Linked DNA regions of Homo sapiens. The protein of the gene in region 2 interacts with the protein of the main gene of each other region in a pairwise test. Each region holds a gene or a part of one and is shown on either strand. Other genes may lie near its edges.

Evidence for each region.
Region 1: the proteins of SET (region 2) and TAF1C interact in binary tests that used the Homo sapiens proteins (3 or more experiments, as listed by UniProt).

Annotation. Positions count from the first base shown.
Region 1 is NC_000016.10:84,180,694-84,184,200, forward strand, and holds part of TAF1C (TATA box-binding protein-associated factor RNA polymerase I subunit C), read right to left. Parts: intron 3,086-3,507; coding exon 3,004-3,085; intron 2,815-3,003; coding exon 2,717-2,814; intron 2,641-2,716; coding exon 2,551-2,640; intron 2,457-2,550; coding exon 2,383-2,456; intron 1,748-2,382; coding exon 1,509-1,747; intron 1,366-1,508; coding exon 1,249-1,365; coding exon of another isoform or gene 1,171-1,248; coding exon 1,053-1,170; intron 971-1,052; coding exon 899-970; exon of another isoform or gene 771-898; coding exon 635-770; intron 494-634; coding exon 350-493; intron 303-349; exon of another isoform or gene 175-302; intron 1-174. UniProt on the Homo sapiens protein: Component of the transcription factor SL1/TIF-IB complex, which is involved in the assembly of the PIC (pre-initiation complex) during RNA polymerase I-dependent transcription.
Region 2 is NC_000009.12:128,692,221-128,694,713, reverse strand, and holds part of SET (protein SET), read right to left. Parts: intron 2,053-2,493; coding exon 1,949-2,052; intron 1,847-1,948; coding exon 1,733-1,846; intron 1,077-1,732; coding exon 906-1,076; intron 819-905; coding exon 672-818; intron 74-671; coding exon 50-73; 3' UTR 1-49. UniProt on the Homo sapiens protein: Multitasking protein, involved in apoptosis, transcription, nucleosome assembly and histone chaperoning. Isoform 2 anti-apoptotic activity is mediated by inhibition of the GZMA-activated DNase, NME1.

The DNA.
Region 1 (3,507 bases), on a different chromosome or scaffold from region 2:
GGGAGGGCGGGTGGAGGACAGACCTGCTTCCTCAGAGCCCCCGCCTCCTGCACAGCAGAAACTCTCCAGCTCTGCACGGAAGCCCCACCCCGAGGCCCCTCCTCCCCTGCTCCACCCCTGGCTGCACCTCGAAGCTCTACTAAGGGGAGGCCCTGGGAGAGCTTCCCCACCTGCCTGTTAGCACCGACTGTGGGATCCACTGCGTGTTTGGGCCACAGATTCATCCAGGGTTGAGTTTGGTTTGCTGGGTGGTTGTCTGGGCCCAGCAGAGCCGCTGGTAAGCAGCAGCCTCTAGTGACCATCTGAGACAGAGCAGAGGTGGGGCGGGGCGGTGTTGTGTGCCACTCACCTGGGTACAGACGAGATGAAGAGTAGGGGGGAGGCATTTGGGGCTGGAGTGCCCCAGGTACTGGGTAAGCAGGACACGTTCCCCTTTCTGGCACGAAGCCTCTGCCCCCAAACGAAAAAGCAACAGACCACAGCCCGGCGGGCCCTGGAAGATAAACACAGGGTCAGCCCTCCCCACAGTCCCAGGCCGGTGACGCTGTCCTCGCCCAGGCCGCAGCCAGCCTGGGACTCACCGCTCTGCGGCCGCTCCCGCAGTCGGGGTGGGTCCTCTGCCGCCAGCCCGTACCTGAGTGTCCAGCATCTTCACTCCGGTGCGGTCACCCACGGTCAGCACCCGAGGGTGCGCAGTGAAGTCTGCCCAACGCCACGAAGAGGAGTCCCGGAACACGAGGGTCTCAGGGTCCCTGTAGATTTGCCGCAGCCTTGGGGAGACAGGCAAGCCGTGGGCAGGGGGACAGGCTGATGGGGAAGGGGCTCAAGGGTCGCGACATGCTCAACAGGGCGGAGTTCAGTTCGTTAGGGTGGGGGGTTTCACAGGAAGCGGCGATACCCATCCTCAGGGCTCCACAGGCAGACGGCTCCCGAGCGGCTGCAGATGGCCAGCTCCCCGGGCAGGTGAGGGCTACAGGGCAGGAATGCATTCACATCGGGCTGCTCAGCCCTGCCTCCAGCCCCTCCTCACCGACCAACCTGACCCCCCTCACCTGAGGCTGATCCCCGTGGCCCCTTTCTCCACCTGCATTGCCTGCAGAAGGGTTGGCTGCCACTGTTTACCAAACTTCCACACGGCACAGTGGTAGTCAGAGCGGACGGCCAGCAGAGCTGAGGAGGGATGGAAAGGGCCAGGGGTCAGGTAGCAGGTCAGCCAGTGAGGGAGGAAAGTGTATATAAGGGCCTTACTTTCTCCCTGGACGGTGCATGTCACCACTTGCCGGACAGGTCCCTGGAGCTGGATGCGTCCAGGTTTCCCAAGGAATTGGGGATTGTCACCTGGGGTCAGAACGACCTCTTGGAAATCTGGGCCTCTCACTAAGGATCAGTGCACGAGCTATGATCACTGCAAGCCCCCCAAATTCCTGCCCTTCTCTGGACCATGCCAAGAGCACCTCCTCTACCAGAGGCGAGCCCGCTGGAATCTCCTGTCTCGCAAGAAAGGATACGCAGCCTGTCCTGGGCGCCTCCAGCAGGGTAGACCAGCTGCCCGAACTGGGGTGTCCTTCCAGGAACCCAGGCCAGCGCGCCCCCAGTGCAGGCCTCATCCAGAAGCAGCTGCTCCCACCGCAGCACCAGCTCCTCGTGCAGCAGCTCTGCCAAGTGGCTCGCCACCGACGTGCCCAGGATGGGGCCCCCGAGGATAGAGAAGCGGCGCTGTCGGTTGCTGAGGTAAGCCCAGGGACACCTGGGGACCAGAGAACAGCAGGAGGATCACTCGGTGGCACTCAGGGGAGGACAGGTCCCATCCCAAGGAGGCCAAGTGCAGTGGACACATTTCTTATTTACCTAGAATTTCTTCCTTTGGGAGACCACCCCATCCTGTTCCCATGCCCCGGAAGCAATCATGTGACCCAGACCTGGCCACCAACAATATTCCATTGCCCTTGCCACAGTGACTGGTTCACAGATGGGTGTGAGACCCAAGCCAAGCCAACCAAAGTCCTTTCTGGGACTTCTGGTGCCGCAGGAAGGACACTGGCTCTTTCCTTAGATCATAAGCCATCTTGCTGCTACCTAGAGACAGCCTGTCTAGGGAACTGTGCAGGGAGAGGCAAGTGGACGAGACAGGAAAGAGAGACACAGCTCTATGAACATTATTTGAACACCTGGATGCAGCTGTGCCTGAACTCCACAAATGTAAATCTGCTTTCCCCTGAGATGATTTGGAGTTGGAAGTCTGGTATAAGAAAGTACAGCTCAGACTGCATGGAGCAGGGGGGAAGTGGGTATGACGGAAAGCTGTACGTGCGTCCTAGCACCTCCTACATCCCCACCACCAGCTATGCCTATCCATCTCCTCCTTTCTCATCAGCCACTTGCCCCCAGGGCTGGTGTCCACCGAGGTCCTGGAGCAGCTTCTTCACACTGACCACTGTCTTCTTCTTAGTGCGGCTCTGCATGGAAAGGCCTTGTCAGGCTCACACACCCTCGAGTTCACCCCTGAAGGACAGCAGGGAGTCCCCACCCCTGGAGTCACGGGCCACTCACCCCCGCTCCCTCCAGCTTGAAATTCTCCAGCATCAGCTTCCCCAGGGGCGCAAAGGCTACGTCTCCATGATCCAAGAGGAACCGGCTGATCTGGGGAGAAGAGGAGGCCAGGTCACTAAGCACAGTCTCCAGGCTACGCAGCACTGTCCCCCGTGGGCCCACTCACCTGCTCAGTCACATCCAGCACGACTCGGGGCCGCTTCCGATACCGGCACCCTCCGCGGAAAAGCAGGTCCCGGGCAGTCAGGCCAGGGTCCCAGGGATCTGAGAAGGAGGTTACGGAAAGGGCTGGGGAGGGCACAGGAGTGCGGCCAGATGCCCTGGGCGACTGGAGGTATCCAAGGGTCCTGAGCAGGCACAGGCTTAGCAGGGAGAGGAAGGTCTCAGGAGCGGGAGCAGTGGGAAGAATAGGTGGAGCAGTGTGGAGTGAGCCCGGGGGAATGAGACCCTTACCGATGAGGGGAGGCAGCATGGGGAGAGGCCCAGGGGTTGCCGGCTCCCACAGCAGGTCCTTGGTCACATGCAGTGCCCCATTCTGAAGGGAGGACAATCGCAAGGACAGTATCATGATGAATGCCCTCCCTGGGCCAGGCTGTGCACAGGCATTCATCTCTTATCAACTCATCCAATCCTCACAACAATCCTGCGAAGCTGGGATGACTGGCATTGTCATTTTACTGCTGAAGAAACTGAGGCACACTGCCATTTGCCCCAGAAGACAGAGCCGGTAAAGAGAAGAGCTGGGATGTGAACCCAGGCAGCCTGACCCCAGAGCTCCTGTTTCCGACCTCCACCTGTGCTGGCTCTCAAAGAAGGAAGCCCCTCATGCCACCAGTGGCTGGTCCACATCTCACGTAACCTCACTTCCATTCAGGAGACCTTGCAGTCACTCTGGGAGCCCGGCAGGCGGCTCCACCTCCCTTTGCTGGGCTGGCCTGGGATGTTTCGGCCCAGACA
Region 2 (2,493 bases):
ACTGGAGAAAATTTAAAAAAAGGAAGGTTGGAATCCATCAGTGTTCTATTTAGTCATCTTCTCCTTCATCCTCCTGAAAGAAAAAGTGGGCAGTTAATCTTCAGGATTAATGCTGAGACTTGCTTTCATATGGACCACAATGGACCCCACGAGTGCCCCTGGGGGCACTCCAGTTTCTAAACCTGTAAGTCAGCTGCATCGAAGGAAACACCCGTGATGATGTTGCTTCAGATTAATTAGTAACTTCAGTTCTAACCAAATCAGGTATATTTCGGATCAAATAATCCGAAATAAAACCAACCTATCCTAATTTGACTATTCAGAAATTGTGCAGTTTGTCGAAAATACATGAAACTTTGTTATTTCAGAGATGTCAGAATTTGACCAGCTACACTGCCTATATTGCCTAAGTACTGGCTAGGGAAAAACAAGCTTGGGTGGTGATAAGTCTAACCAAAAAAACCCAAAAAAAAACCAAAAAAAACCTAGTTAAACATTAGTACCATGTGCTTATCAAACATTTCCTTAATTCTTGAACAACAAAATGGCTTACTTTTTTTCCACAATCAGTTCTGGTCAGTTCTACCACACTATATATATATATATACACCCCAAAATAACATGAATTCTTTAAAAGTTATCTTTGTGGGTTTAGCCAAATTTTCTTTTACCTCTCCTTCCTCCCCTTCATCATCATCTTCATCTTCTTCACCTTCATCCTCATCCCCTTCTTCGTCAATATCTTCTAATCCTTCCTCCTCTTCATCATCATCATCATCTTCTTCTCCTTCTCCTTCTTCATCATCCATATCGGGAACCTTAAAAAAAAAAAAGCACAATATAAGGACTCATTTTTAAACAACCGAGACAAGTCCAACCTTGAATAAATGAGTATTAGAACTCACCAAGTAGTACTGTAATGGGTTTGGCCAAATATCATCTTTGATGACCTCTCCTAACTCATCAGCACCTGCATCAGAATGGTCAGTAAACCAGGTAAAGAAGCTCTCTGGTTCCTCATGCTGCCTCTTCCTGCTGGCTTTATTCTGCGTTTGACTCGAACGTTTCGTCAAATCCTAAATGAATACCGGAAGAGCTTTTGATACAATCTCTCCATAACACCCAAACTCCCTATAATTTAAAAAATAAGATTTTCCCCAAAAGCTAAGCAAAACAAATATCAGTATACTATCTACGCTACCATTATTACCTAAGAGCAATTATAAAACTGTGCAGCAGGTAGAGGTAGTATCAACTACATTTGGTTTTCCATAAAATTAGTTCCACTGTTAACAGCCACTAGCACAACACAGTATAAATATCTAAACTATGTCTTACTACCTAAATACGGATGTAAATGATTTTGAGAAATGGCAAGCCATTTGAAGAGCTCAGTCACCACTGCAGAAAACAACAGCAACAAAAAATTTAGTCCAGTTCTCAATTCTTAAACTTGGGCTAGATTTTTCTCTTTTTTTTTGTTTTTTGGAAGGTAAGGGTCTATGTTGCCCAGGGTAAACTCCTAGGCTCAAGAGATCTTCCTGCCTACATCTGTAGTATCTAATGAGAACCCTAAACTACTGTAATACTTGGCTTCAGCACACTGGAACGTTTTATATTTTAAGGTTTTGTATTTAGCCACATGACCAAAGTATCAAGCACTTGTAAGTGGTTAAAACTAAACTGAAATAGGCAAAATGCTATTTTTGTCAAATAATTCCTCAAAACATACCTTTCCAGATTTCCATTTGATTTCGGTGGACTTCGAAGATGGATCACCACTCTCATTCAGATGAAATTCTTTGGAGAGAACTTTATTTTCAAAGTAAGGATTTTCATCAAAATACTGTAATAAATAATTGAAAGATTAGAAATATGAACAGGTCTTCCAACCAAAGCTCACATTAATTTCCACAGTGGCAAACAAGATTAAGTTAGAGATACTTACAAAATCTATTCTGTAACCTGATTTAATATCTTCAAATTCTGTCACTTCAACTCTGGTCAAATAATGCAGTGCCTCTTCATCTTCCTCCCCAAGCAGTGCAGACACTAGGCCAGAAAATTACAGGTCAGCTGAATTTTCAACAGGCACACACTAACAACAATTTAAGTGATCCCTTTAAAATTTTTCCGAACTTAGTGAGCATCTTTGGTTTTATAAACCCATTATTAACTAAAGGCAATTGCTCAATATCAGACTGTCACTATCTTTCATCAAGCAATTAGAATATAGCTTCTCCTAAACAGAATAGAAAGCAGTAGCTGTATATCTTTTCCCGTCTTTGAGGTTTTTTTTTTTTTTTTTTTTTTTTTGAAACAGTCTCACTCTTGTCGCCCAGGCTGGAATGCAAAAGCGCACAATCTCGGCTCACTGCAACCTCCCCCTCCTGGGTTCAAGCGATTCTCCTGCCTCAGCCTCCCAAGTAGCGAGTAGCTGGGATTACAAGCGCGCGCCACCACGCCCAGCTAATTTTTTTTGTATTTTTAGTA